4 linked regions of the Homo sapiens genome follow. The protein of the gene in region 2 purifies or fractionates together with the protein of the main gene of each other region. This does not show direct contact. Each region holds a gene or a part of one and is shown on either strand. Other genes may lie near its edges.

Region 1 (7,027 bases), on a different chromosome or scaffold from region 2:
CATTAACTATATAAGTTTCTATTCTTGAGCAGCATGTATTGTTATTTTGTATGTTTTTTTTTTAATTAGTATTTATTGATCATTCTTGGGTGTTTCTCGGAGGGGGGGATTTGGCAGGGTCATAGGACAATAGTGGAGGGAAGGTCAGCAGATAAAGATGTGAACAAAGGTCTCTGGTTTTCCTAGGCAGAGGTCCCTGCGGCCTTCCGCAGTGTTTGTGTCCCTGGGTACTTGAGATTAGGGAGTGGTGATGACTCTTAACGAGCATGCTGCCTTCAAGCATCTGTTTAACAAAGCACATCTTGCACCGCCCTTAATCCATTTAACCCTTAGTGGACACAGCACATGTTTCAGAGAGCACGGGGTTGGGGGTAAGGTTATAGATTAACAGCATCCCAAGGCAGAAGAATTTTTCTTAGTACAGAACAAAATGGAGTCTCCTATGTCTACTTCTTTCTACACAGACACAGTAACAATCTGATCTCTCTTTCTTTTCCCCACATTTCCCCCTTTTCTATTCGACAAAACCGCCATCGTCATCACGGCCTGTTGTCAATGAGCTGTTGGTTGCACCTCCCAGATGGGGTGGCGGCCAGGTAGAGAGGCTCCTCACTTCCCAGACGGGGCAGCCGGGCAGAGGCGCCCCCCACCTCCCGGACGGGGCGGCTGGCCGGGTGGGAGCTGCCCCCCACCTCCCGGACGGGGCAGCTGGCCGGGTAGGGGCTGCCCCCCACCTCCCGGACTGGGCGGCTGCTGGGCGGAGACGCTCCTCACTTCCCAGACGGGGCGGCTGCCGGGCGGAGGGGCTCCTCACTTCTCAGACGGGGCAGCCGGTCGGAGACACTCCTCACCTCCCAGACAGGGTCGCGGCCGGGCAGAGGCGCTCCTCACATCCCAGACGGGGCGGCGGGGCAGAGGCGCTCCCCACATCCCAGACGATGGGCGGCCGGGCAGAGACGCTCCTCACTTCCTAGACGGGATGACGGCCAGGAAGAGGGGCTCCTCACTTCTCAGACTGGGCGGCCGGGCAGAGACGCTCGTCACTTCCTAGACGGGGTGGCGGCCGGGCAGAGGCTGCAATCTCCGCACTTTGGGAGGCCAAGGCAGGCGGCTGGGAGGTGGAGGTTGTAGCGAGCCGAGATCGCGCCACTGCACTCCAGCCTGGGCAACATTGAGCACTGAGTGAGCAAGACTCCCTCTGCAATCCTGGCACCTCGGGAGGCCGAGGCTGGCAGATCACTCGCCGTCAGGAGCTGGAGACCAGCCCGGCCAACACGGCGAAACCCCGTCTCCACCAAAAAATACAAAAACCAGTCAGGCGTGGCGGCGCGCGCCTGCAATCCCAGGCACTGGGCAGGCTGAGACAGGAGAATCAGGCAGGGAGGTTGCAGTGAGCCAAGATGGCGGCAGTACAGTCCAGCCTCGGCTCGGCATCAGAGGGAGACTGTGCAAAGGGGAGAGGGAGAGAAGAGAGGGAGAGGGAGAGCTGTATGTTGTATTTTATTTTATTTATTTATTTATTTATTTATTTATTGAGACAGGGTCTCACTCTGTTGCCCAGGCTGGAGTGCAGTGGTGTGATCTTGGCTCACAGCAACCTCCGCCTCCCAGGTTCAAGTGATTCTCCAGTCTCAGCCTCCAAAGTAGCTGGGACTACAGGTGCACACCACCATGCCTGGCTAATTTTTGTATTTTTAGTAGAGACGGGGTTTCACCATATTGGTCAGGCTGGTCTCAAACTCCTGACCTCAGTTGATCCACCCACCTTTGCCTCCCAAAGTGCTGGGATTACAGGCGTGAGCCACTGCACCCAGCCAATTTTGCATTCATTCAGCATTGTTTCTAAGATTTATCTGTATTGACGTTTATAACTTTATTGATTTTTCATTGCTCCATAGTATTTTATTATATGGCAGTGGTACCGTTTATCTTTTTCTCCTATTGATGATTTTATTTATTTTTTTTTCTCCAGTTACTGATTCTTTTGAGTGTTTCCAGTACATGGTCTTTGTATATATGTGCAAGATGTTTCCTATTCCAGATTCTAGGAATAAACTTGCATAGACTGTAGGATATACACTTCTTTGGCTTTACTTGATATTGCAGAATTCTTTTCTGGGCTGGTTTTTTCATCACTAGCTCTTTAGCCACTCTTTAGATCAATGACTTGTGGGTTTTTTATCCCTTGGAGGTGCCCGAAATCAGGTGGTGATAAGAGCAGAGCCCCAACTCTGTGCCTTGTGTGCGGATCTCTGCTGTGCTCCCAGAGTTACTGCTGCCAGACTGAACTGGAAGGGGAGGATGTAGGAGCCTGCACAGCTCACACCTACTCCTGTGGCTCTGGAGTGGGCATCTTCCTGAGGTAAGGACCTGCAGGGGCTTTTTAGCTTTGGATCTGCCTCAGTATCTGACTGTTAGGGTGTCACAGGAAACTACTATATTGCCAGGAATTTTGAGACTACTGTTCCGTGTGATTCATTCCAGAAACGTGGAGCTCCTTGTCGCCTCACATCTCACATCTGGTCCATGCCAACTCTGTGTTGGTTCTTTTATTGTTACCATTCCCACTCCTCTTCCCTCAACCATAGGTGACAGTTCTGTTCTACTTTCTCCATGTCTCCCACTAATGTGAAACTTCTCTGATTTTCTGAACAAATCCAGTCAGAATTACTCTTTCTGTTATGTCCTCATGGCTTTTGGATTTTACCTCCACTTATACATATTATCACAACTCTACATGCCAGCTTGTGATTAGTGACTACTATGTACCAGGCATTGAGGATGCAGTAGTCCACAGTGCAAAGATCTCTGCCCTTATGGATGGAGCTTGTTTTGTATGAGAGAGAGGACAAGCAAGACTGACAAGAATTTAGATAGTGATATAGGCTAAGGAGAAAAAATAAAGCAGGGAAGGGGAATATGAAATGGCAGCTATGGAGCTAAATTTGAGATTTAATTTTAGTAGATCAGGGAAGGCTTCCTAAGAACATGACTTCTGAGTAAAGACCTAAAGAAGTGGGAGAACATTCTACTCAGAACATTCTGCACAGTTCCTGGGGTAGAAATGTGCCTGTCTGCTCAAGGCAAGGAGGCGCGTGTCACTGGAGTGTTGTGCACAGGTGAGAGAATCCAGGGGCCTGCTGTGTGCTGGTGACATCTCTGGGCAAGGTGTAAGCCATTTCAGGGTTTGAAGCAGAGGCATGACATGAGTGTGGGCTCCTCTGGAGCATAGGTTGTATCCATAGCTTAGTCATCCCCCCAGTACCTTGATAATTTCTTATACGTATTAGGTCCTCAATAAATGTCTGTTTAATTGTGCTGTACTATTAATGCCAGAAAAAGGCAAATGTCTCAAAGGGATCAGGGGACACAAATTTGACTCGATTCAACCTATTTCCTAGTTTGTGCACAATTTTTTAATGGATAACTTCCTCCTAATAGTGGTTTAAATATCAGTACTATAAGACTTCATTCTATTTGGAACTGAATACAAATGTTGGTTACTAATGTGTAAATGTGTAACGTATGACTGATCTCTCTACAGAGTACGGGAATGTCAGGTGCTATTTTTAGCTGGCAAAACCAAAGGCTGTTTTTATTCTCCTCCTTACCTTGATGACTATGGGGAGACCGACCAGGGACTCAGGTAAGAACCCATCCTGAGTTAGCTAACTCAGGGCCTGCAGCGCCCTTCCGTATGTGGTGACGTCCTGAGGGTGGAGGGCTGAGGTGGTTCTGGAAGAGGTGGCTGTGTTATCTGTGGAGTCTTCCAAGGAGGGTGCCCTGTCAGCCTGGTTTGGTGTTCTTTTCCCAGCCTTCAGAATGCCATGAGGAACATCAGGATAGGTAAGGGAAGAGAATAGGACAGAGTGCAACTTTATTCCATTTATCACTCCAAAGAACTGTTTGAATTGCCATATAGCATCCCAGCTCAGAGCACTCCAGGGATGGCCCACTCTGACTTGTATGGCCTTGTATAGAGGAAGCCCAGTGTTTGAGAAAATCTTAATTGCTAACAAATGTGCTTATTACATTAAAATCTGGGGGACAAAGATTTAAAACATAAAGAACAATATAACAATATTTGAGGCTAAGTTACTTCTACTCTGGTAGCTTTAGTATATTGTAAGCTAACAATTCCCCCAAGCACTATTAAAGAACTTCTTTCAGACCATCTCTTTTGTCTAAAGGAGGTATAAGTTTTAACCGCCATAGATATGCCTGTCCAGCCTTAAGTAGCAGATGTTAAAGGCCTAGAAACCCAAGCAAGGTAAGTAGATGAGCTGCCCCAGGCGCTGGACTGCGAGGCTATGCCCATATGCCACCCAGTGCTGGTGCTTCCCACTGTTCTCAGCGTGGGCTGTTAGGAGGAGGAGAGTCTGATTAGTGAGTGAGAGGATGGCTGTGCTCAGAAACAGGAGCAGAGGTGCCTGGCTCAGGGCACTGGTCCCAGGCAGGAACCCACCAAAGCTTGCACTTGTGTTTAAATTAGACCTGGAAGTTACTCACATTTGATTGCTTCACTGAGACTGTGGCTGAAAGATTGCATCTGAGGAATGTTTTTCTTTTCTTTTCTTTTCTTTTTTCTTTGCACTCTTAGTAAAATCTGTGAGGAATATTTTTACTCCTATAATTCTTCTTTTGTGTTCTCCTCTGCCCTCTTCCCTTTTTACACGTTACCAACAAAATGGGCAATGAATTGGTAGTTTTAGCCTCTCAACCCAGACCCTCCTTATCCCCCGCAACCTCTATTCCCTCACCTCACTCTGGGTAAGTCTGGTTTGTGTACCTTTCCTTCCTCATTTCAGCACTTATTCCCTTTTACCTGCTCTTGGCAAAGGGTCAGAGCTGATGTTTTTGTTAATAGCCACAGTCACCTGCCAGACAGAAATGTTGCAGGGAGTCTAAAACCAATAACTTGTAACCTTGCCTAAATCAGGAAGGGTTGGGTTATAATAGAGGAATAAACAGAACACATTCTGAGTGACATGTGTCTTCTCTTTCTAGACGGGGAAATCCTTTACATTTATGCAAAGAGCGATTCAAGAAGATTCAGAAGCTCTGGCACCAACACAGTGTCACAGAGGAAATTGGACATGCACAGGAAGCCAATCAGACACTGGTTGGCATTGACTGGCAACATTTATAATTATTGCACCACCAAAAAACACAAACTTGGATTTTTTTAACCCAGTTGGCTTTTTAAGAAAGAAAGAAGTTCTGCTGAATTTGGAAATAAATTCTTTATTTAAACTTTCCTTCCCAGTTTTATAGTTTCTGGTTCTGAGGACTGATGAAAATCATCTTCCATCAGCAGATTTTCTTGCACTGTTTGCTGTGCCCCTCAAATATAATGTCTTGGGTTTTAAGATCGAGCAAGGAGCTTCTCTTCCTAGATTGGATCCCAGCCCCTTTGTGGGGGTCTGACTGCATAGTCCCAGCCATTATGTGATATTTCACGTTATTGATGATAGTGAACCGTGGGTCCGAAGCTGACTCAACGGAGGCAGGGAACAAAGTCTCTGTGGTCTGTTGGGTCATACTTCCTGGTTCCACTGAGTGGCCCAACACTGGGACTGGGTTGGTGTCCCCTCTGCTGACAGGACCCTACTCCTAGGAGCAAAGTGGTTGATTTTGAAGGCAGTGTTCCCTTCTCTCCATTGACTATGAGAGAGTTGGGGGACACACATGCAGAAGAAGCCCGTGGGGAGAAGGTGGATTCCTGGTGTGCTGGCTGGTTTTTCAGGGCTGTTAGAGGTTTTTTTTTTTTCTTTTTTTTTTTATGGCAAGACTTTTGGCTTTGAGAAAACTCACTTAGAGGGCTTTCCAAAAACTTAGGATGGTCTAAAAAATTAGGATATTCTTTTAGAATTAGGAAGAAAAATTAGGATATTCTAAAAGAATATGGATTAAAAATTTAGGATATTCTTTTAGATATCCTAATATCTAGATGAGAGGCCTTCCTTCATAAGATCTGGTTGTTTGGGCTGTGGTTGGCATAAGTGATATTTATTTTGGCCTCTGTCACATCCAGTTTCTTGAGCTTTTAAGGTAAGCTTCTTTTGGCTTTTTTTCAGATGTTCACCAAGCTTAAGTTTAAAATAATAGGTATTCTAAAAGAGTATCCTAATTTTCTTATCTGTATTCTTTTAGAATACCCTAATGTTTCAGACAGTGATATTCTCTTGTTATTTCTAAGGCTAAATTGGCAGAGTATATCATCTAAAGCCAAACACTGAAGAAGGTGAGAACCCACTCCCACCCAGCCAGCATTTCCTGGAACAGACAAGCTGCTGCTTCCTTGCTGGCTCACTTAGTGCATTCCTGGGATGGTCTGGCACCCAGGCTTTTTATTCTTTTTGATCATTGTTCTTACTGAGGTGCCTTCCTAGAACAAGAGCCACTTACAAAATAGCTTATAATTATTATGTACCACACAACTACTATTGTTTGATGTATGACTGCTGAGAGCTTGAATACATGCAGAGAGTGACTGAAGACTTAGTAGAGGAATAAATTCTGAGCCTGTCTAAGGTGGGGCTAAGGAACAGATGAGTAATAAGAGGCTCTTGGATTTTTTTAACCAATGCAACTGACCCTTTCAATCAGTTTTCTTTGAATTACATCTACAAGTTTTGTTCCACTCAGCTACCAGTCAACTAGGCATGCTCCACAGTATCACAGGAAGAAGGTCAGAAATCTGGAACTGAAGCTAAAAGAAGTGAGGATGTAGAAGCCACATTCCTCTCCAAGGTAGTGTGTGAAAGAACCGCCCCCTCTTGACAGGAGGATGACCGTCGCCATTCTTGCGTGGGACTGACTCACCCAGCTGAGAGGAGGACCAATAGAAAGAAAATTCACATTTGAGTCCACCTCTCTCCCCCTTTTTCTGGCCTTCATTCATAAGATCTGGTTGTTTGGGCTGTAGGTGGCATAATTCATGTTTATTTTGGCCTCTGTCACATCCAGTTTCTTTAGCTTTTAAGGTAAGCTTCTTTTGGCTTTTTTTCATATGTTCACCAAGCTA
Region 2 (7,027 bases):
CAATTTTTTAATTAGTTCATGAAGAGCAACTGGCTTTTTTCTGCCATGTGAGGTAAGGAAAAATACCATAACTGCTACTACAAATTGATTCATTCATGCCAAGAGCCTAGCAGTTTTACCCATCACTGCCTTTACTTCATTATATAAATATCAACATGGTAAAAAGAACAAATAACATGTTATTATTGTGATGAAAGTAGTTTTAATTTCACAGACTCTCTGAAAGAGTCTCAAGGACCTCCAGGGATTGATAAACCATGCTTTAAGACCCACTGCTTTGGTGTTAATCCACTTTGGAAACAGGTATGGGTTGTCATAAATGACAATATCTAAGAAAGATGTGAGCTGCAGCTATATTTTTTTTAGTGTTTTAAATTTTGATTTTACTCCAGCCTTTTTTGAACTGTATGTAGGTCTTCTAACTAAGGTAGAAAATTAAAATTAATGAGTAGTATGTAATCTTATGTTTTAAGGTTACTCATAAAGATTGCAAATTTATTGTGGATTAAGAAATCCTTTCTTGTCAATAATGTCAAGAATTCCTTTATTTTGTTCATTCAATTTTCACAACACCCCTGTGGGTTTTATCTTGGTGTTATCTTTGTTTAACAGATTAATTGAATTTAACAGACTATTTACCTTCCCAAATCATGCATTGAAAAGATGGACCCATGGTTTAATATTGACCAAAGTGCTCGTTACAATATTTCTCGCCACCAGCCGTTGAAATATGGCATACTATAAAGAGAGCCTAAGTTCTGAAGTTGCCTGGGATTAGGTTGACAGCCCTGCTTCTCCACTGCCCGAGTTGGTGTTCTTTATCCTCTCAATCCTTAGTGAACTCATCAGAAATTGCATTTACTTTATAGAATTACAGGTATTAAATAAGTCATGTAAAACAGGTTTCAGTGTGCCTAGTACATAGTATACATTAAATATTTTTCTTTTCTACTTATTCACAATCATTACTATTCTAAATATTACTTCATTTTTTGTCGCTTTTTTTTTCTCTAATGCCTCCTTCCCTTTTCTCATTGCATACTTTTGGAAATATATTATTAGATGCCTAGATAATACAAATAGGGTCTTTGTACACTTAGTAGATCATTCAGTTGCTTAAGAAAGAAAGTTGGAGGAAGATCAATATGTCTACTTTAATATATGGACTAGGATTAAAACACCGTATTATACATATGCCATGTGTTGTTCAGAATTTCAATTAATAATTCCATTATTTTGACTCTTTTTTGTTGTATTTTTAAAATGTCCTGTTAGAATCCAGAACCCTTGATGTGTCCACAGATGAAGAGGATAAAATACATCACTCCTCAGAAAGTAAGGATGATCAGGGTTTGTCTTCTGACAGTTCTAGCTCTCTTGGAGAAAAAGAACTTTCATCAACAGGTTAGTAATTTGTATGATTTTGGTTAAGAATTTTATTTTTAATATAGTGTTTTTGATATAGTTATTAATGACATAACAAACTCTAGTGACATGGGGCAAGTAGGTCATTAATGATGATTGTCAGAGTGCCAAAATTGCTCATTTTTATTACATTTTAACATGCACAGGTCAGACAGCTTATAAGTAGCAGGGCTAGGATTCAAACCCAGTTTGTTCTGGAGCCTGTATTCTTCTTAATCACTGTGCTATACTGGGTGATTGACATTGATACTTGAAGGATGGTAAGAATTTGTCAGGGAGGATGTTTCAGGTATAGGATGTAGCATATCTGAAACTCTAGGGAAGGTATGTAATATGTGCAGGAAGCTAAAAATAGCTCTGGCTGAAAGTATTTGGTTGCGAGTTTAAGGAAAAGAAAACAGGAAGGACAAGTTGGAGTCAGATTATACAGGGCTTAGGGAACCACTGAAAATTTTATACAGATGACATGAATGTTTTTGTGTCTTAGAAAGATCAGTCTAGTTCAGGGGTTGGCAAATCTGGCCCACCACCTGTTTTTGTAAACAAAGTTTTATTAAAACACAATCACAGTCTTTCAGTTACTTAATATTTGTGGGTGCTTTTGCACTGCAGCAGCAGAGTTGAGAAGTTGCCACAAAGACCCTATGGCCCGCAAAGTGAAAAATATTTATCTGGCGTCTTACAGAGGTTTATAACTTGTTTTGTGCCGTGGACTCCTTTTTCAGTCTAGTGAAGCCTAAGATCCCTTCTGAGAAAATAAAGTAAAATACATAGCTTTGTAGAGGAAACAAATTATATTGAAATAAAATTATTAAAATATATTTTATGACGCTTGTAATATAGTAATAAGTGCTTCTGTGCTTCTTTTTTTTTTTTTTTTTTTTTGAGATGGAGTCTCACTCTGTCGCCCAGGCTGGAGTGCAGTGGCGCAATCTGGGTTCACTGCAAGCTCCGCCTCCCAGGTTCACGTCATTCTCCTGCCTTAGCCTCTTGAGTAGCTAGGACTATAGGCCACCACGCCTGGCTAATTTTTTGTATTTTTAGTAGAGATGGGGTTTCACCGTGTTAGCCAAGATGGTCTCGATCTCCTGACCTCTTGATCTGCCCACCTCGGACTCTCAAAGTGCTGGGATTACAGACGTGAGCCACCACGCCCGGCCATAAGTGCTTCTTTATTAGCCTATTAAATAACAACAACCAGTAGCTCTGTAACCTTGTAATTTTGTTTCTTCTCCATGTCCACAAGGTACAGAAATACTAAGCGATTAAGCCAATATTAAGAACTGAAATCTAGTAAACAGTTGAAGCCTTGTCTGGATTCTAGATACAGTGCTATTCAGTAAAATTTTCTGTGGTTTGGAAAAATTTTCTATCTTCACTGTCCATATGGTAGCCACTAGTCACAAGTGGCTGTTGAGCTCTTGAAATGTGGCTATAGCGAGACTGAGAAATTGAATTTTTAGTTATATTTGAATACTCACATAGGGCTAGTGGCTACTGTACCAAACAATGCTACTATAAAAGATGGCGGATTAGACTAGGTGCCATGGCTCATGTCTGCAGTTTGGGAGGCCGAGGTGGATGGATCACCTGAGGTCAGGAGTTTGAGACCAACCTGGCCAAAATGGTGAAACCCTGGCTTTACTAAAAATGTAAAAATTAGCCAGGCATGGTGGCATGCACCTGTAATTCAGGGGACTGAGGCAAAAGAATTGCTTGAACCTGGGAGGCAGAGGTTGCAGTGAGCAGAGATCATGCCAGTGCACTCCAGCCTGGGCAACAGAGCAAGACTCCATCTCAAAACCAAACAAACAAAAAAAGATGGTGGATTAAACAGGATAAGGCAGTGGTTGTAAAGTGTTGGCAGCACTGCCCCCACCTTAGGAGAGAGGGCAGCGTTTGAAAATGTGTGGGATTATTTAAATGATTATAGTAGTTGAGTTGTTGCTGGCACATAGTGCCCTAGAGGCAAGGGATGATAAATGTCTTAACAGGAGTGCAGAACAGTTCAGCGCAGTGAATTGCCCATCCCCTATGCACATTGAGAAACGCTGATTAAAAATTGAAAACTTGTCCTGTGAGGAACACCTGAAAGTTCGAAGGACTTATTGGCTGGCGAAGAAAAGATGGAGGAATGTGTTAATTTTAAGGGCTGGCATGTGGAAGAAGAGCATTTATTTGTGTTCCGATGAATAACTGCCTCAAAATAGTCCCTCTAGCAGAGATTACTTGTTACTAATAGAAGATGATAATTTACCTCTCAGCCCTAGATGATTGCATATCAGATAGGATGATATATGTGAAGAATTATTCATAAGTTATAAATTTGTAAAAACATGATGTATTTATTATTGAACAATATGCTGACATTATTGATTCCTCCTATGTCTGCCCAGCATCTGCTGTGTGAGAACCCTTGAACGAGGTATTGAATATGCAGAAACAGGACAAACGCAATACTCTTCTCTTCCTTGGTTTTTTACTTCTTTATTTTTACTTGAGCAGTTACCTTTATGTAGCACTAATATCTTACTAGTGTGTCCCATTGCTTGTGACTTACTAATTAAACCCTACCGAGTCACCTGCAAGAAAATCACTTCCAAAATAAGTATTTCTGTGTCCACATTCATACACTTGAGTATTTGAACCTAAATGTCTTATCTTAATCCTGCCTGCACATTAAAATCCTCTAGGGAGCTATAAAAACATACTTCTGCTCAGCTCTGCCTCAGATCAACATCTGAATCACTGGTATAGAGGCCTGGGTATGTCAAGCTTCTCAGGTGACTCTGATGTGTAGCCAGGGTCGAGAATTGCTACTATAACCTGCTGTGATGGTTTTGAATCTTAAATGCTTTGGGAGGAGGAAGAGACACCTGACCTTCATCATGTCCCTGACAGTAGTCTATAAATAATTACTAATCTATAAAAAAGCAAATCACTTCATTTTCTATTACTTGTTCTTGATGAATATTTATTGACTTCTAGTGATTTCTTTATTGCTTCATGATTCACTCAAGGACTTTTAATTTTCCCTAGGGCTGATGTCAAGCATATTGGTCTGTGATTTCTAAAATCTTTCTCTTTTTTTGTTTGTTTCAAACATGGGAGCTTTTGTGCATCTCCAAGTACATGGCATTTTTCTGTTTATTTCTCAAAGAATTTGGGTCAACTTGTGGGAAAGTTTAGAAAATTTCACTTCAGCCTCAGTAGCTTGACATCTTTTTAGTAGTTTGAAGTGCTTAAAATGGTGAAAATTTCTCTCGCTGTTTCTTTAATGTAGTATTTTTCTTAAGAAACCGTTTTTTCCAGAATGAAGATAAATTTCAGCTTAGATCATGCATGAAGAAACTCGTTTTAAATTGGAAGAGTTTATGCTAATGATATTTATGCTGTACAAAATAAAGAAAAAAAATAAGACTCTCTTAAGAGTTGTTGTCATTTAAAATTTTTCACCTGGTAAATGAGCCTGATTATTTTCTTTACACTTCTTAATGTCTCATGTTTATTCACGTGGGGCTCACTACAGAACCGCAGAGGCTAATTTGGCTTTGCTCTGTTACTGTTTGTAGTATGTTTGTGATTTCTTGTAAGTGTGGGTAGGAGGGAAGGAGGAAGGAGGACATCATAGTGTAGTATCTCTCTTACTTGGTAAGTCAGGCTGGTCTGTCATTGATCCTTCTAACTTCTGTAGCTCTCACTGATTGGGGAACACCACACTCAGCCCTCTCCACATCCCTGCGCTGACAATCTCAGAGCTTCCAGAAATGAGAAATAGCGACCCCTCAACAAAGTGAGCAGTACCTGATGAGTAAGAGAGTTAAAAGATAAAATGAAGCAGTTTCAGTATATTTTCTGATACTTCTAGATTTGTTTGATTTTTCTAAGTTGTATTTAATCTCTATTAAGTTTTCTTCCTTTGCTGATACAGATTTTGAGCCATTTATTAAAGTCACATTCATATATCAAAATAGCAAATAATTTAGGAAAATGGTGCTTTTTTCTTTTTCTTAAATGTGAGGAATATTTACTTACATTGGTCTTTGGTTTTTAGTGTCCTCGTCTTTGTTTCCTTCAGTTAAGATCCCAGATGCAGCTTTTATTCAGGCAGCCCGCAGAAAACGTGAATTGGCCAGGGCCCAAGATGACTATATTTCTTTGGATGTACAACATACCTCCTCCATCTCTGGTATGAAGAGAGAGAGCGAAGATGACCCTGAGAGTGAGCCTGATGACCATGAAAAGAGAATACCATTTACTCTAAGACCTCAAACACTTAGACAAAGGATGGCTGAGGAATCAAGTATGGATTTACCAATATATGAAGATTAGGATATTTTTTATTAGAATATAATATGAGAGAATCTCCATAAAAAATGTAATATGCTGGCTCACATTTTATAGTGTTGATAATGGTTTTTAACATCGATTTGGTCCATGATATTGTGACCTCTAAAAGATGTATCTGTATCAAAATGTTATTATCAAGGAGTATGTGTAATAATGTTTATTAATGCCTGACCTCCCACCTTGATGTTTTTGGACAGGTTAAAAAAAATGTGCAGTATCTTACTTTCAAAGCATTGAAAACGATCGTTTTTACCTGTATAAATATATTTTTTTTAACATGGAAGCATCTATAGAGATTTTAGATGTCATGTATTAAAATCTTCCCTGCTGTAATAAAAAATTTCCTCTACCAATAATACTAAGCCTTAAAGGACTGTTTTCATATTTCTCATTTATGATATATGCATTTGACCAAGGTTTTGGTAACTTTAAATAATATTTTTTTCAGAAAAGGACTTAGTTCCTTACAATTTATTTTTAAGTGTTTGGATTCTCAGGTAGTAATTGAGAGATCTTTGATAAGAAAAACCAAACATTTCATTCTTTCTCAGTTTTTTACAATATAGGGCTATAGTGTTTTGAGTGGGACAGTTTAGTGATAGGAGTGCAGGTTATGGAGTCAGATCCCAGGATCCAGCTTCCAGCTTCAACATAGTCCTAAGACAGTTACTTAACCTCCCAATATTTGCATTTCCTCATTTGTGAAATGAGGGCAGTAATAGTGCCTTCTTCCCAGAATTATTATGAAGAATAAATAACACGTCAAGTGGTGCTAAGCCTTTGTATAATCTCAAAAAATGTTGGCTTGCTGCAATTAAAATGGAAAAATACTAAACGTTTACATGTGAGCTTTTTTTCCGCTAGTAAGCAGAAATGAAGAAACAAGTGAAGAAAGTCAGGAAGATGAAAAGCAAGATACTTGGGAACAACAGCAAATGAGGAAAGCAGTTAAAATCATAGAGGTAATCATTTTTTATCCCATGTGTATTAGATTCCTGTGGCTGCTATAACAAATTACCACAAACTTGGTGACTCAAAAGAACACACATTTATTCTCTCACAGCGTGGAGGCCAAAATCTGAAGTCAAGGTATTGGCAGCACCTTGCTTCTTCCAAAGGCCCTGGGGGGTTGTGGGGAGCGGTAATTCTTCCTTGCCTTTTGCAACTTCTGGTCATTCCAGGTGTTTCTTGGCTTGTGACTACATAACTCCTCTCTCTGCCTCTGTCTTCACGTGGCTTTTTCCATGTCTCT
Region 3 (6,566 bases), on a different chromosome or scaffold from region 2:
GTACACCATGGTTCCCCCGACTTTGCCACCATGACCTCCTTCCTGTTCCTCCATATATCTCGCTCAGTCCAGCCCTAGAACCTGCTCTCTGCCTGCCAACACTCCTCCCCTCTCAGGTCCCTCTCATTCCAGCTTCAGCTTCATCACCACCACTTCAGAGGCCTTTCCTGACCTGCAATCTAAAGCAGTCACGTGACCCTACAGGAATTCCCTATAAGGCACATTCATTATCAGATCTTTGTCCCGAAACCAGTCCTACCACAGCTTTTCAATCGCCAGAGTCAATAAAAAAATCTCCTTTTTGACTTATGCCAGCTGAGGACAGGCTAGAAAGCCTACAACTAAAGAACCCTGATGGAGATGCTCAGACCTCCCCACCAGCAAGATCCAGCTAATCTTCCCTGCAGGTCTCCCTCCCTTCCAGGCTTGTGTAGGAAACCAAGTCTACAAGGCAAGTGGCAGGACTAGTGACTTGAGGCCTTTAGACACAAGGTCAAGAACCGCAGGGACATGGCAAATTTCATCTGCAGATTTGTTTTTATTTCTGCTGTGCAATTAAAAAAAAAAAAAAAGGGTAAGAGCTGTGAAAGGAAAGGAAGATGGGCTTCCCGGAAGCCAGTGTCCCAGTGTGTGCTCCCTCCCCTTGACCTTCCCAGTCCCAGGTGCTCCTGGTGCAGACAGACACGGGGAGGTGGTTATGGTTATTGTTTTCTTTTTTTAATGAAACTAGATCACTGCTTACAAAACCCTGCACAAGCCCTCCTGCCCATCCCCTTCACAGTTCCCTTGGCTCAGCCTCTCCTGTCTCACAGGAACTGCAACAAAATGGGTGTGGAACAGCCACCACCACGTCCATTGAACGACAGGAAGGGAGAGGCCCTGGGCTCCGACCCTGGGCCTTAAGAGGGTGACAGTTCTTCCTTCCACATCCGTTCCCATGGGGCCTGGAGTTGCATGGATGAGGGTGGTCCATGCCACCATGGTTCTCAGGCCACCACTCAGACCAGAGTGAAATGATGTGAATGTCCCACCCCACAGAGCCCCCTCCCCCCATAGATTCCCCCCACCCCCCCCCCCAAACCCTAATTCTACCCCTCTACTGAGATGAGGCCCAGCTTCCATCAGAAGGGCCAGGGCCTACAGGCTGTAGAACTTGAGGCTTCTGTCCATGCCTGTTGAAGCGATGAACTTGGCGTGATGCCCGAAGGCCACCCCTGTGGTCAGGCCGCTATGCTCTGAGGAGAAAGATAAGAGGCAACTGTGAGAAGGCTTTTCCTCCTTTAGTCTGAACACTGATCCCTAATAACAGATTCCCAAACAACCAGGCCTTCTCTAATTAGTATTTATCACACCGCAGGCTCCTGTTTGTTTTCCCTAGGCTGACCTGCACACTACCCCCAGTGCCTCCCTCAGTGCCTGGCATTTTTCACTGGTGGGATGAATGAATAAAGCAATGCCAGCCCCCCCTTCTCACCTGAGCTTTCTGGGCAACTGCAGTTCGGCTAGGTTTAGTTGAAAAACCTCAGAGCTCAGCTTGTTTATGCCTAGTGCTCACTACTTGCTCGTAAGTGGAACAGTCCATCAGCATTTTCTAGCTCATAGTGTTCCAACCCCAGGGCACTCAGGCCCCTAACACAGAGCAGGACCAGATAAGAGGCAGATGAGGCTGGGCAACATTCCTCATGGGACTCCAGAAATTCATGAACATCTGGCCAAATTCCTTCTAGATTTAGGATCACACCTGGAGTCAACCAACTCCCCATTAAAAAGCTCACGCTGTATTTTCAGCTACCTAACTCGGTTCTAAATCAAAACACCAGGTACAGTACAGGGTGAAAACCGGTGAGCCATATTGTTAGGATGGACACCTTTGTTATACAAACACACTGAGCAGGGCTCAGGAGAATACGGGGCAAGAAGAAATATCTTGTATCCTGCTCACAACCTGCTAATGAGGACGAGAATTTCATCAACACACACAGCAGTAGCTCCCATTCATGTAGCATCTTAAGTGAGCATCAGGCACCCTGTTACCAGCATATTAGCATGCCATCTCCACAACACCAGCTGTCACACCCTGCAAAGCTGTGCCAATATTCCCATTTTCTAGATGAAGGAGTTCAAGATCTGAAAGGGAAAGTCACGTACCCAGGGCCACATAACTGTTAGGTTAGAAACCCTGTTACCCATTCTCTCAGCATCTCATGCTTTTCTTCTCTAGCACTTATAATTGCAATTAAATGTGTACATGTGAAATTAATCTACATCTGCCTTACTAACCTGACTATAAATTACATCAGTGCCCAAATCGGGTCTGTTTTATTCACTGCTCTATCCCACCACAGACTAAGACCCAATGCTGAGTGAGAACAACTGCAAATCCTGACTACGTGCCAGACACCGTTCTGACCTATGTATTCACAGACGGTCCCCGATTTACCATGGTTCAACTTGCAATATTTTCAGCTTATGATGCACTTATCAGGATGTGGCTCCATCGTATATCAAGGAGCACCTGTATGTATTTTCATCTAAACCTCAACAACCCCACTGAGTCTATAGTTACCATTCCCACTTTTCTGAGAGGTTAAGTAATATTGGATCTCAGAAAACAATACCCCAAAGTATGGTGGTTTGGCACGCTGAGGGCTTTGAACCAAGGTCTCTCTGACCATGTCCTGCCCTCCTGTCTCTTGCCCCTCTTTCTCTAAGGGCAGGTCATCTGAAAGGAACATCATGAATCCCCTTCCTGGGAATCTCAACCAGGGAAAATGAACTGGTCTCACAAGAGAGAAGACTAGATGCCAGTCTTTGTCACAGACTGTCATGCATTATTTATCTAAGGTCTGCTCTGAGACAACTTTTATTACCTGAGAGACTCTGTAGTGCACTTCCTCCCCATCCCCCCACATAACTTGTGTCACCACCACCCCCTAGAAGCCTTAGGCCCCTACTCCCTTCTGCAGTTCAGGATGCCATAGAGTCATGTGTCACATAATGACATGTCAGCGACGGACCACACAAACACTGGTCCCATAAGATTACAGTGGAGCTGAAAAATTCCTATCACCAAGTGATGTCATAACCATCATCATGTCACAATGCAATGCATTATTCACGTTTGTGGGGATACAGGTATAAACAAATCTACTACACTGCCAGTTGTATAAAAGTATAATATAGCTAGGCGCGGTGGCTCACGCCTGTAATCCCAGCACTTTGGGAGGCCGAGGTGGGCAGATCACGAGGTCAGGAGTTTGAGATCAGCCTGGCCAACATAGTGAAACCTCATCTCTACTACAAATACAAGTACAAAAAAAAAAAAATTAGCCAGATGTGGTGGCACACGCCTGAAGTCCCAGCTACTCGGGAGGCTGAGGCAGGAGAATCACTTGAACCCAGGAGGCGGAGGTTGCAGTGAGCCAAGACCATGCCATTGCACTCCAGCCTGGGTGACAGAGCAAGACTCAATCTCAAAAAAAAAAAAAGTATAACATAATTAGGTACAGTACGTTACTGGTTTATGTACAGACATATCTCAGGGACATCGCTGGTTCAGCTCCAGGCTACCAATAAAGCAAATATTGCAATAAGGCAAGGCACACAAATTTTTTTGGTTTCTCACTACATATAAAAGTTATGTTGGCCAGGCATGGTGGTTCATGCCTGTAATCCCAGCACTTTGGGAGGCCGAGGCAGGTGGATCGCTTGAGTTCAGGAATTCAAGACCAGCCTGGCCAACATGGGGAAACCCCGTCTCTACTAAAAATACAAAAATTAGCCGGGTGTGATGGTGCCCACCTGTGCTAGAACCTGGGAGGTGGAGGTTGCATTGAGCCAAGATCGTGCCACTGCACTCCAGCCTAGGCGACAGAGCAAGACTCCATCTCAAAAAAAAATGTTATGTTTACACTATACTGTAGTCTATTAAGTGTGTAATAACATTATGTCTAGTAAACAATGTACATACCTTAATCAAAAATACTTTATTGCTAAAACATGCTAACAACCATCAGACACTTCAGTGAGTTGTCATCTTTTTCCAAGACCCACCAGCAGGGTCTTGCCTTGATGTCGATGGCTGCTAACTGACAAGGGTGGTGTTTGCTGAAGGCTGAAGTGGCTGTGACAATTTCTTAAAATAAGACAACAAAGAAGTTTGCCACATCATTTGATTCTTCCTTTGACAAAAGATTTCTCTGTGATGGATGCTGTTTGATAGCATTTTACCCACAGTAGAACTTTCAGAACTGGAATCAATCCTCTCAAATTCTGCACCTGCTTTATCAATTAAGTTTATGTAATATTCTAAATCCTTCATTATCATTTCAACAATGTTCACGGCATCTTCACCAGTAGAAGATTCCATCAAGAAACCACTTTCTTTGGTCATCCCTAAGAGCTCCTCATCCATTAAAGTTTTAACATGAGATTGCAGCAATTCAGTCCCATCTTTAGACTCCCCTTTGGATTCTAATTCTCTTACCATTTCCTCCACATCTGCAGTTACTCCCTCCATGGAAGTCCTCAATCCCTCAAAGTCATCCATGAGGGCTGAAGGGTTGGAATCAATTTCTTCCAAACTCCTCTTTATGTTCATAGTTTAACCTCCTCCCATGAATCACAAATGTTCTTAAGGGCGTGTAGAATGGTGAATCCTTTCCAGGTTTTCAATTTACTTTGTCCAGATCCATCAAAGGAACCACTATCCAGGGCAGCTATAGCTTTATAAAATGTATTTCTTAAGTAATAAGACTTGAAAGTCAAAATTACTCCTTGATCCATAAGCCGAAGATTGGATGTTGCAGGCATGAAACATCTCCATCTGAGCTTTAGGGTAATGAGGTGCACTGTAATATTTTGAAAGGAATCTATTTTTCTGAACAGTACCTCTTAATGGGGGGCTTAAAAAATATTCAGTAAACCATGCTGTAAACAGATGTGTTGTCATCCAGACTTTGTTGTTCTATTTACAGAGCACAGGCAGAGTAGATTTAGCCCCACCTTCTTAAGGGCCCTACAATTTTCAGAATGCTAAATGAGCTTTGGCTTCAATGTAAAATCACCAGCTGCATTAGTCCCTAACAAGGGAATCACTCTGATCTTTGCATCTTGGAAACCAGGCATTGACTTCTCTCTAGCTGTGCAAGTTCCAGATGTCACTTTCTTCCAATAGAAGGCTATTCCGTCTACATTGAAAATCTGTTGTTGAGTGTACCCACCGTCAATGATCTTAGCTAGGTCTTCCGGATAACTTGCTGCAGCTTCTACAACAGCATCTGCTGCTTCACCTTGTACTTTTCTGTTATGGAGATGGCTTCTTTCCTTAAACCTCATGAACCAACCTCTGCTAGCTTCAAACTTTTCTTTTGTAGCTTCCTCACCTGTCTCAGCCTTCACAGAATTCAAGAGTTAGGATCTTGGTCTGGATTATGGTTTGGCTTAAAAGAATGTTGTGGCTGGTTTGATATTCTATCCAGACCACTGAAACTTTCTCCATATCAGCAATAAGGATGTTCTGCTTTCTTATCATTTGTGCGTTCACTGGAGTAGCACTTTTAATTTCCTTCAAGAATTTTCCTTTGCTTTCATAACTTGACTAATATTTGGTGTTGAGGCCTAGCTTTTGGCCTATTTGGCTTTTCACATGCCTTCTTCACTAAGCTCAATCATTTCTAGCTTTGGATTTTAAGTAACAGACATGGGACACTTTCTTTCACTTGGACACCGAGAGGCCATAATACGGTTATTAACTGGCCTAGTTTCAATATTGTTGTGTCTAAGGAAATAGGGAAGTCTGAGAGGGAGAGAGATGGGGAACGGCTGGTGGGTGGAGTGGTCAGAACACACACAGCATTTCATTTATCAAATAAATTCAGTAACTTTTATGGGCACATTTCATGGTGCCCCCCCGCCCAACAATTACAATAGCAACATCAAAGATCACTAACGGACACAATAAATCATGAAGAAGTTTGAAATACTGTAAGAATTACCAAAATTTGACACACAGACACAAAGTGAACACATGTTGTTGGAAAAATGGTACTGACAGACTTGCTTGGGGCAAGGTTGCCAAAAACCTTCAATTTATAAAAAGCAAAGTATCCATAAAATACAATAAAGCTAAGTGCAATAAGACAAGGTATGCCTATACTATACTTTTTTTGGTATTAAATATACTCTTCCCACTTATAAAAAAAAGTTAACTGTAAAACAGCACCAAGCAGGCCCTTTCAGGAGGTATCCGAGAAGAAGGCATTATCATCATAGGAGATGACAGGTTTATGCATGTTGGTGCCCCCGAAGACCTTCCGGTGGGAAAAGATGTGGAGGTAGAAGACAGTGATGTTGGTGCTATGGTTAGGCTTTGTGCCGCCACCCAAATCTCATCTTGAATTGTAGTGCCCATAATCCCCACGTGTTGTGGGAGGGAGCCAGTGGGAAGTAACTGAATCATGGGGGTGGTTACCCCCATGCTGTTCTCATGATAGTGAGTTCTCACGAGATCTGATGGTTTTATGAGGGGCTTTAGCCCCTTTGCTCAGCATTTGTCTCTCCTGTTG
Region 4 (7,370 bases), on a different chromosome or scaffold from region 2:
AAAAAGGTTGGATGAAATCATCAGTAGAGGATCCAAGCTGCTGAGATTCCACCCCACATAGAAGGTGGACAGACTAAGCCAAAGCTGGGGGAGGCTCCTGGGATTCTGGTCTCCTCTGAGTTCAAGGAGAGGTGACATTTGCCTTCATGACCTTCCAATTCCGATGCCTACTGATGGCAGCTCAGGGGCCTTAACTCTTAACTTCCTTTCTCAGTGACTTATAGCTCTTGTTTTCCAAGTGCCATAGTGTAGTGCTAGTGCCAGAAATAAAGTTAGCATGTACTAGGCCAGGCGCGGTGGCTCAAGCCTGTAATCCCAGAACTTTGGGAGGCTGAGGCAGGTGGATCACAAGGTCGGGAGATCGAGACCATCCTGGCTAACACGGTGAAACCCCATCTCTACTAAAATACAAAAATTAGCCGGGCATGGTGGCACGTGCCTGTAATCCCAACTACTCGGGAGGCTGAGGCAGGAGAATCGCTTAAACCCGGGAGGCAGAGGTTGCAGTGAGCCAAGATTGCGCCACTGCACTCCAACCTGGGCAAAAGAGGGAGACTCCATCTCTAAATAAATAAATAAATAAATAAAGTTAGCATGTACTTAATGAGTGTTCAGCACTGTGCACTGTGTTGAGGGCTTTACATGATCACATTTAGACTCATAAATGATAAGAGCTAACATTTGTTAAATGTTTACTATGGGTCGGGGCACTTACGAGATTTTTCTTTTTTTTTTTTTGAGACAGGGTCTCACTCTGTCGCCCACGCTGGAGTACAGTGGCATGACCACTGCTCACTGCAACCTCACCCTCCTGGTTCACCGTCCTGATCACCCTCCTGACCCTCCTACCTCAGCCTCCTGGGTAGCTAGGACTACAGGAGTACCACAGTAGTAGTCTATTTTTTGTGGAGATGGGGTTTCACCATGTTGCCCAGGCTGGTCTTGAACTTCTGGGCTCAAGTGATCCTCCTGCCTCGGCCTTCCAAAGTGCTGGGATTACAGGCATAAACCATGGTGCCCGGCCCCACTTACGAGTTCTTTCTATGTTATTTATTCCTGTGATAACCCTATGAGCCTATGAGGTGCTATTTTTTTTTTTTTAGACGGAGTTTCACTCTGGCTGGAGTGCAATGGCACGATCTTGGCTCACCGCAACCTCTGCCTCCTGGGTTCAAGTGATTCTCCTGCCTCAGCCTCCCAAGGGACTACAGGCATGTGCTACCATGCCCGGCTAATTCTGTTTTTGTTTGTTTGTTTGTTTGTTTTTTTAGTAGAGACGAGGTTTCTCCATGTTGGTCAGGCTGGTTTCGAACTCCCGACCTCAGGTGATCCACCCACCTTGGCCTCCCAAAGTGCTGGGATTACAGGTGTCAGCCACGGCGCCCCGCCGCTATCTACTTCATTTTACAGAAAAGAAGACCGAGGTTCAGAGAGATTAGGTAACGTGCACAAGGTCACACAGCTAGGAAGTGGTTGAACATGGATACAAATCCAGGCAATCTGGCTTCACATCATGCACTCTAACTTGCTCTGCTGTCCTGTCCTGTGAGGGAAGTGGTATTATTATCTCTGTTTTGTAATGAGGAAAGAGAAAAGCCAGAGATGCCATATAATTTGCACAAGATCACAGTACTAGTAAGCAATTGAGCCAAGATTCAAACCAGAACTCACTGTTCACCAAAATCCCATGGACCCCTTACTGGTAGGCATGTTGTACCTAAATAGGTATCTCCAGTTATGGTTCTTACTAGAACACCATCCCTCTGTCTCTGTCTCCAAAGATGATGGTTTAGGTGTGGTGACTGGTGCCTGTAGTTCTAGCACTTTGGGAGGACGAGCCGGGCGGATTGCTTGAGGCCAGGAGTTTGAGACCAAACTGGACAACATTGCAAGACCCTGTCTCTACAGAAAGTAAAACGATTAGCCAGGCATGATGGGGTGCACCTGTGGTCCCAGCTACTTGGGAGGCTGAGGCAGGAGGATCACTTGAGCCCAGGTCAGGGCTGCAGTGAGCTGTTTGTGCCACTCCACTTCAACCTGGGCAACAAAGTGAAACCCGGTCTCAAAAATAAATAAGTAAATAAGCCAGGTGTGGAGTCTCACGCCTGTAATCCCAGCACTTTGGGAGGCCGAGGCAGGTGGATCACGAGGTCAGGAGATCGAGACCATCCTGGCCAACATGATGAAACCCCGTTCCTACTGAAAATACAAAAATTAGCTGGGTGTGGTGGCATGTGCCTGTAATCCCAGCTACTTGGGAGGTTGAAGCAGGAGAATCGCTTGAACCAGGGAGGTGGAGATTGCAGTGAGCCGAGATTGCACCACTGCACTCCAGCTTGGCGACAGAGCGAGACTCCATCTCAAAAATAAATAAATAAATAAAATAAAATAAAAATACAAACAAATAAGAAAACAAAGATTCATGTTTGTGAGAGAACTAGTGGGGCAAGACAAATAACAAGTATCCTTGAAGCCCAATGTCTTACATGTGTCATGAGATGTGCGCACAAGTACTAGAGGAACTCTGCCACTATGAACTGGGACAAGCTTTATCACCCTCCAGGAGCTCAATTTAAAGAGAGTTGAGATGGCAGCCTGAAAATGGGGAAAGGTAATGGACTCTGAAGTTAAATGAACCTGAATTTTGGCTCCATTCTTTTCTTTTCTTTTTTCTTTCTTTCTTTTTTTTTTTTTTCCAGTCAGGGTTTTGCTCTGTCACCCAGGCTGTAGTGCAGTGGCACGAGCATGGCTCACTGCGACCTCGACCTCCTGGGCTCAAGCAGTCCTCCTGTCTTGGCCTCCCAAAGTGCTGAGATACAAGCATGAGCCACCTCACCTGGCCCATTCTTTTAACTATGTGGCCTTTGAAGGCATAATTACTCTTTCTGGGCCACAATCTCCTTACCAGTAAAATGGAGATAGCACTCATCTCATACTGCTATGAGAACTAAGTAAAACAAATAAGGTAGGTTAAGTGTCCAGCCCAGAGCTGAGCACTTAGAAGATTCTCAATAAAAAGTGGCTGCAGTTTTTGAAGATTCTGGCCTACCATGGTTGGTCTGATTCTTAGTTTAATCTGTGAATCTGTGAGTCGAGCGCCCTCTCGTGCTTTTGTGGTGAATTACACCTAACAGATCTCAGAGCTCTCTTCTTTCCCTTGCGTTCTCTCTGGAGTAGAAGCTGGGAGGTGAAAGGCTGCAGGTTCTAAGAGAAGTGTGTGTCTCCGAGGGTTACTTTGGGCCATTGTACGTGATGCTCAGGGCTTTAGGATTACTTGGGTCTATCCTGAGGCTCTGCTTGAGAGCTTGGGCATATTCAGAGAGAAAAGGCAGACCTACAGCCATGTGGAATTGAAGCAACAAACCTGCTGCTGGCAAAATGGGAAGGGAGGTCCGAGATACTTCTGGTTATCTAAACCGTTTCCGCAACTGCAATGTTTTGTTTTGTTTTGAGGGAAAGAGTTATGAACCCATAAGACCAAAGAGAAACACAAAGTGAACTTACGATTTGAGGTTAAAACAACAACAACAACATCAACAACAACAACAACAGCAACAACAAAACTCAGTGGAAGACTGAAGTAGGGGAATCTGGGGGAAGAAAGAAGCAAAAATACCAAGATAGCTCAACAATTGGTCACATTCCAAAGGGCAAGAAATTGAGGAAACCAGGGTTCCATCTGGAATGTTGAGAAAACAGGTGCTAGAGCCCAGGAGATACCATCCTTCCGGGAGGACTTTAGAGCCCATTGTGTGGGCTCATTTGGAGCTGTAACAATAACTGGGGGTTGTTATGGCATTCACCCGGCTGCAGGGGCCAAGGTTGCTAAAACGTCCTCCTAAGCCTGGGATAGTTCCACACACAATGGAGAACTGCATCACCCTCCTTGTGAACCTACTCCGGTAACCTGATCTTTAGTTTGTCCAACTGTAAAATGGGGCTAGCCCCATTCTCACAGAATTATTATAAAAACCGCTTTTCCACGAATGGTATTTATTGTTACTGCGGTTGTTAGCTATAATTACGTACTACAGATATCTCAGGAAGCCCTTAAATTCCTCCACTGTAAGCCACGGGCAAGGACAGTCATAGACCGTAGTTTCTAGGAAGACCAGCCGATTCCAAGAAGGGTGCTCGGCGGGAGAACCTAATGCCGAAAGCCTATTGGCGAAAAACTCTTCCTTCCCGGACGCTAACGTCTGGCAAACCACATTGCCCGGCAGACCCCGCAGCCTGGGGCCGGCGCTCAAGTCATGCATTCTGGGATTGGTAGTTTCCAGGCCTCAGTGTCGGCCTGTGCCGCCCAGCTCCAGGAACTCGCCTTCCCAGCTTGCCTCGCGGCCGGGGGGGTGGGGGGTGTTCATCTCCGCGACCAGGAAACGGGAAAGATGGCGACGGCTCCGCGACGTTGAGGCCGCGTTGGGCGGTTCAGACTCAGGGTGGTGAGTCCCGGGCGGTGGAGGCGGTTCCCACGAGCTTACAGAAAGGGCTAGAGTCAGGGCACGGCGGTGGCCCCTGCCTCCTGGATGAGGCGGGAAAGAACGCCTCAGAGAAGGGGCATGAACCCGGGAAGCTCGGGCGGGCTGGAGTGAAGGGGCGCGGGCCCCAGGGGTAGTGTTGGCTCCTCCGGGCACAGGCCACGTCCCTGCACGATATTTTCCTCCCAGGACTCTGCCTATGGGCACAGCGCCTCTGATACCCCCAGTCTGACCTTATTCTTTCATGCTTAAAGTAGCCTTTGGTGCAGCCAAACTGGAACTCTGGCTTTTCTCTCGCAGTCAGTCCATGTTTTCCCGCCTCTGCGCCGGCCGTATTATTTCTTTTGCCGGGAATGACTTCTTTTCCGCGTCCTTAATTACATATCTTAAAATTCTACTTATACTTAAAAGCTCAAGCGTCACTTCCTCTTCCAAGCCTTCCACATCACCTTTTACAAGTGAAAGGAAACGCCTTTGAACACCTGTATTACTACATCTGAGCCTTGATACTCTTCTTGGTATGTGTCTCATACCCCCTATTGTTCTTTTTTTTCTTTTCTTTTCTTTTTTTTTTTGAGACGGAGTCTCGCTCTGTCGCCTAGGCTGGAGTGCAATGGCACGATCTTGGTTCTCTGCAACCTCCGCCTCCCGGGTTCAAGCGATTCTCCTGTCTCAGCCTCCCGAGTAGCTGTGATTACAGGCGCACGCCGCCACGCCCGGCTAATTTTTTGTATTTTTAGTAGAGACGGGGTTTCACCGTGTTCCCCAGGCTGGTCTCGAACTCCTGAGCTCAGGCAATCCACCTGTCTCGGCCTCTTAAAGTGTTAGGATTACATGCGTGAGCCACCGCGTCCGACCTCATAACCCTGTTGTTCTAAACACTTCCTGTGAACAGAATTTATTTTTGTAACTCACATAGCACCTAGCACTGTGCCTTGCGTACAGTAGATGCTTGTTAAATACGTCATTGAGTGAAAAAAAAGAATGTGCCCCTGCCCTGCAAGAACTGAGGACCTGAAGATCTGGAGGTTTGAGAGGAAGGCTGCTGGGAAGCATGGCCAGAGTCAGCCTGGTTATTTGGCCCTTGTGATAATAGAACCTGTAATAAAAGTTGCCTGTATTTACTGTCTTCTTCTCATTTTTCATTCTCTTCCAAACTCATTCCACTCAGGCTTCCATTCCCGCAATGCAACTGAAACAGCTCTTGTCAAGGTCACCAATAATCTCCATTTTTCCAAATTCAGTGGTTACTTCCCTGTCCCTTATTCCCTCTCCACTTCGGTGGTACTTGACACAGTTGACCCCTCCCTCCTTGAAACATGTTTTTGGCTTCTTCGTTGCCATGCTTTTCTTTGTCTTTTCTCACTGGCTGCTAGTTCTTTTCAGTCTTTTTCTCTGGTTCATCCCGTGGCTAACTCCTGTTAAAGTGTTCCAGAGCTCAATTCTGGAGCTTCTTCTCTATTTTTTTTCTTTCACTATGCTGCCTACTTAGGTAATATCATTTAGTGTCCCATGGCTTTAAAAGCTATCTGTGTATTGGTGACTCAAGTTTTTGTCTACAGACCCTCTCCCCTAAGTTCAGATTTGCATTTCTCTTTGCCTTCTGGGAATCTCCACAGATATTCTCACACTCAACCTGGCCAAAATGAAACGTTTGATTTCCTCTTAAATCTGTTCGTTCCCTAGTCTTCTCCAGTTTGTTTGCTATGGCACCACAAACTATTAGGTTGCTGAAACTATAAATTTAGGAGCTATCTTTGTGTCTGCTCTTTCTGCTTCTTCCTTAGTAAGTCCTGTTAGCTTTGCCTCCAAAATATACTCTGACGCTGCCTACTTCTTTCCATCTCCATCGCCACGTTCCTAGAACAAGCCACTGCCATCTCTTGCCTAGAGTACCATAATAGCACTCTCAGTGGTTGTGTTTTCACTCTGTCTCTCTGCTATATATTTTCTTGCAAGTCACCAAAGTATTAGATTGCTTCCTGTTTAAAGCTCTTCTAAGATCCCCATTGCAGTTAAAATCCAAGTTAACTCTACTCTGACCTGTAACACATTTTCATTATCTGACTCCTGCCCAGCTCACTGAACTCATCCTGAATCAGTATTCCTCCTGCATTAGTGCTTCCCAGGGTCAAGAAGTCTTTCCACCTCAGCCTGGGCTCAGGTGATCCTCCCCAGGCAGGAGCGAAGGGGCATGGGCCCCATAGGTAGTATTGGCTCCTGGGGGCACAAGCCGTGTTCCTGGACGATATTTTCCTCCCAGGCCTCTGCCTATGAGCTCTTGAGCACTTTTGAGCTCAGGCATTCCACCCACCCTAGCCTCCCAAAGTGCTAGGATTACAAGTGTGAACCACCACACCTGGCTGATTTTTTTTTTTTTTTCTCTCGAGACAGAGGGAGTCTTGCTCTGTCACCCAGGCTAGTGCAGTGGCACTATCTCGGCTCACAACAACCCGCACCTCCTGGGTTCAAGCAGTTCTGCCTCAGCCTTCCGAGTATCTGGGATTACAGATGCCTGACATCACGCCTGGCTAATTTTTGTATTTTTAGTAGAGACGGGGTTTCACCCTGTTGGCCAGGCTGGTCTCGAACTCCTGACCTCATGATCTGCCTATCTCAGCCTCCCAAAGTGCTGGGATTACAGGCGTGAGCCACTGCTCCTGGCCTCCGGCTGATTTTTAACTGTTTATAAATGTAAAATTTTATTGTTCAAAATAGACGGGAAGTCTTGCTATATTACCCTGGCTGGTCTCGAACTCCTGGGCTTAAGTGATCCTCCCGCCTTGGCCTCCCAAGGTGCTGGTACTACAGGCATGAGCCACCAGGCCTGGCCAAACAAATATGTTTTTAACTGACAAACGTGTAGTTGGGCTCACACCTGTAATACCAGCA

The links.
Region 1: the proteins of GCFC2 (region 2) and UBR2 purify together in Homo sapiens (affinity purification with mass spectrometry; 4 studies listed by BioGRID and IntAct, with this or other methods). This does not show direct contact.
Region 3: the proteins of GCFC2 (region 2) and PRPF19 purify together in Homo sapiens (affinity purification with mass spectrometry; 2 studies listed by BioGRID and IntAct, with this or other methods). This does not show direct contact.
Region 4: the proteins of GCFC2 (region 2) and DDX23 purify together in Homo sapiens (affinity purification with mass spectrometry; 3 studies listed by BioGRID and IntAct, with this or other methods). This does not show direct contact.

The regions. Positions count from the first base shown.
Region 1 is NC_000006.12:42,686,025-42,693,051, forward strand, and holds part of UBR2 (E3 ubiquitin-protein ligase UBR2), read left to right. Parts: intron 1-2,191; coding exon 2,192-2,362; intron 2,363-2,962; coding exon of another isoform or gene 2,963-2,984; exon of another isoform or gene 2,985-3,525; intron 3,526-3,544; coding exon 3,545-3,646; intron 3,647-5,007; coding exon 5,008-5,149; 3' UTR 5,150-7,027. UniProt on the Homo sapiens protein: E3 ubiquitin-protein ligase which is a component of the N-end rule pathway.
Region 2 is NC_000002.12:75,700,900-75,707,926, reverse strand, and holds part of GCFC2 (intron Large complex component GCFC2), read left to right. Parts: intron 1-1,275; coding exon 1,276-1,404; intron 1,405-5,479; coding exon of another isoform or gene 5,480-5,503; coding exon 5,504-5,728; coding exon of another isoform or gene 5,729-5,757; exon of another isoform or gene 5,758-6,131; intron 6,132-6,639; coding exon 6,640-6,737; intron 6,738-7,027.
Region 3 is NC_000011.10:60,890,029-60,896,594, forward strand, and holds the end of PRPF19 (pre-mRNA-processing factor 19), read right to left. Parts: intron 1,236-6,566; coding exon 1,138-1,235; 3' UTR 519-1,137; downstream 1-518. UniProt on the Homo sapiens protein: Ubiquitin-protein ligase which is a core component of several complexes mainly involved pre-mRNA splicing and DNA repair. Required for pre-mRNA splicing as component of the spliceosome.
Region 4 is NC_000012.12:48,849,156-48,856,525, reverse strand, and holds the start of DDX23 (probable ATP-dependent RNA helicase DDX23), read left to right. Parts: upstream 1-4,362; 5' UTR 4,363-4,442; exon of another isoform or gene 4,443-4,476; intron 4,477-4,711; exon of another isoform or gene 4,712-4,805; intron 4,806-7,370. UniProt on the Homo sapiens protein: Involved in pre-mRNA splicing and its phosphorylated form (by SRPK2) is required for spliceosomal B complex formation.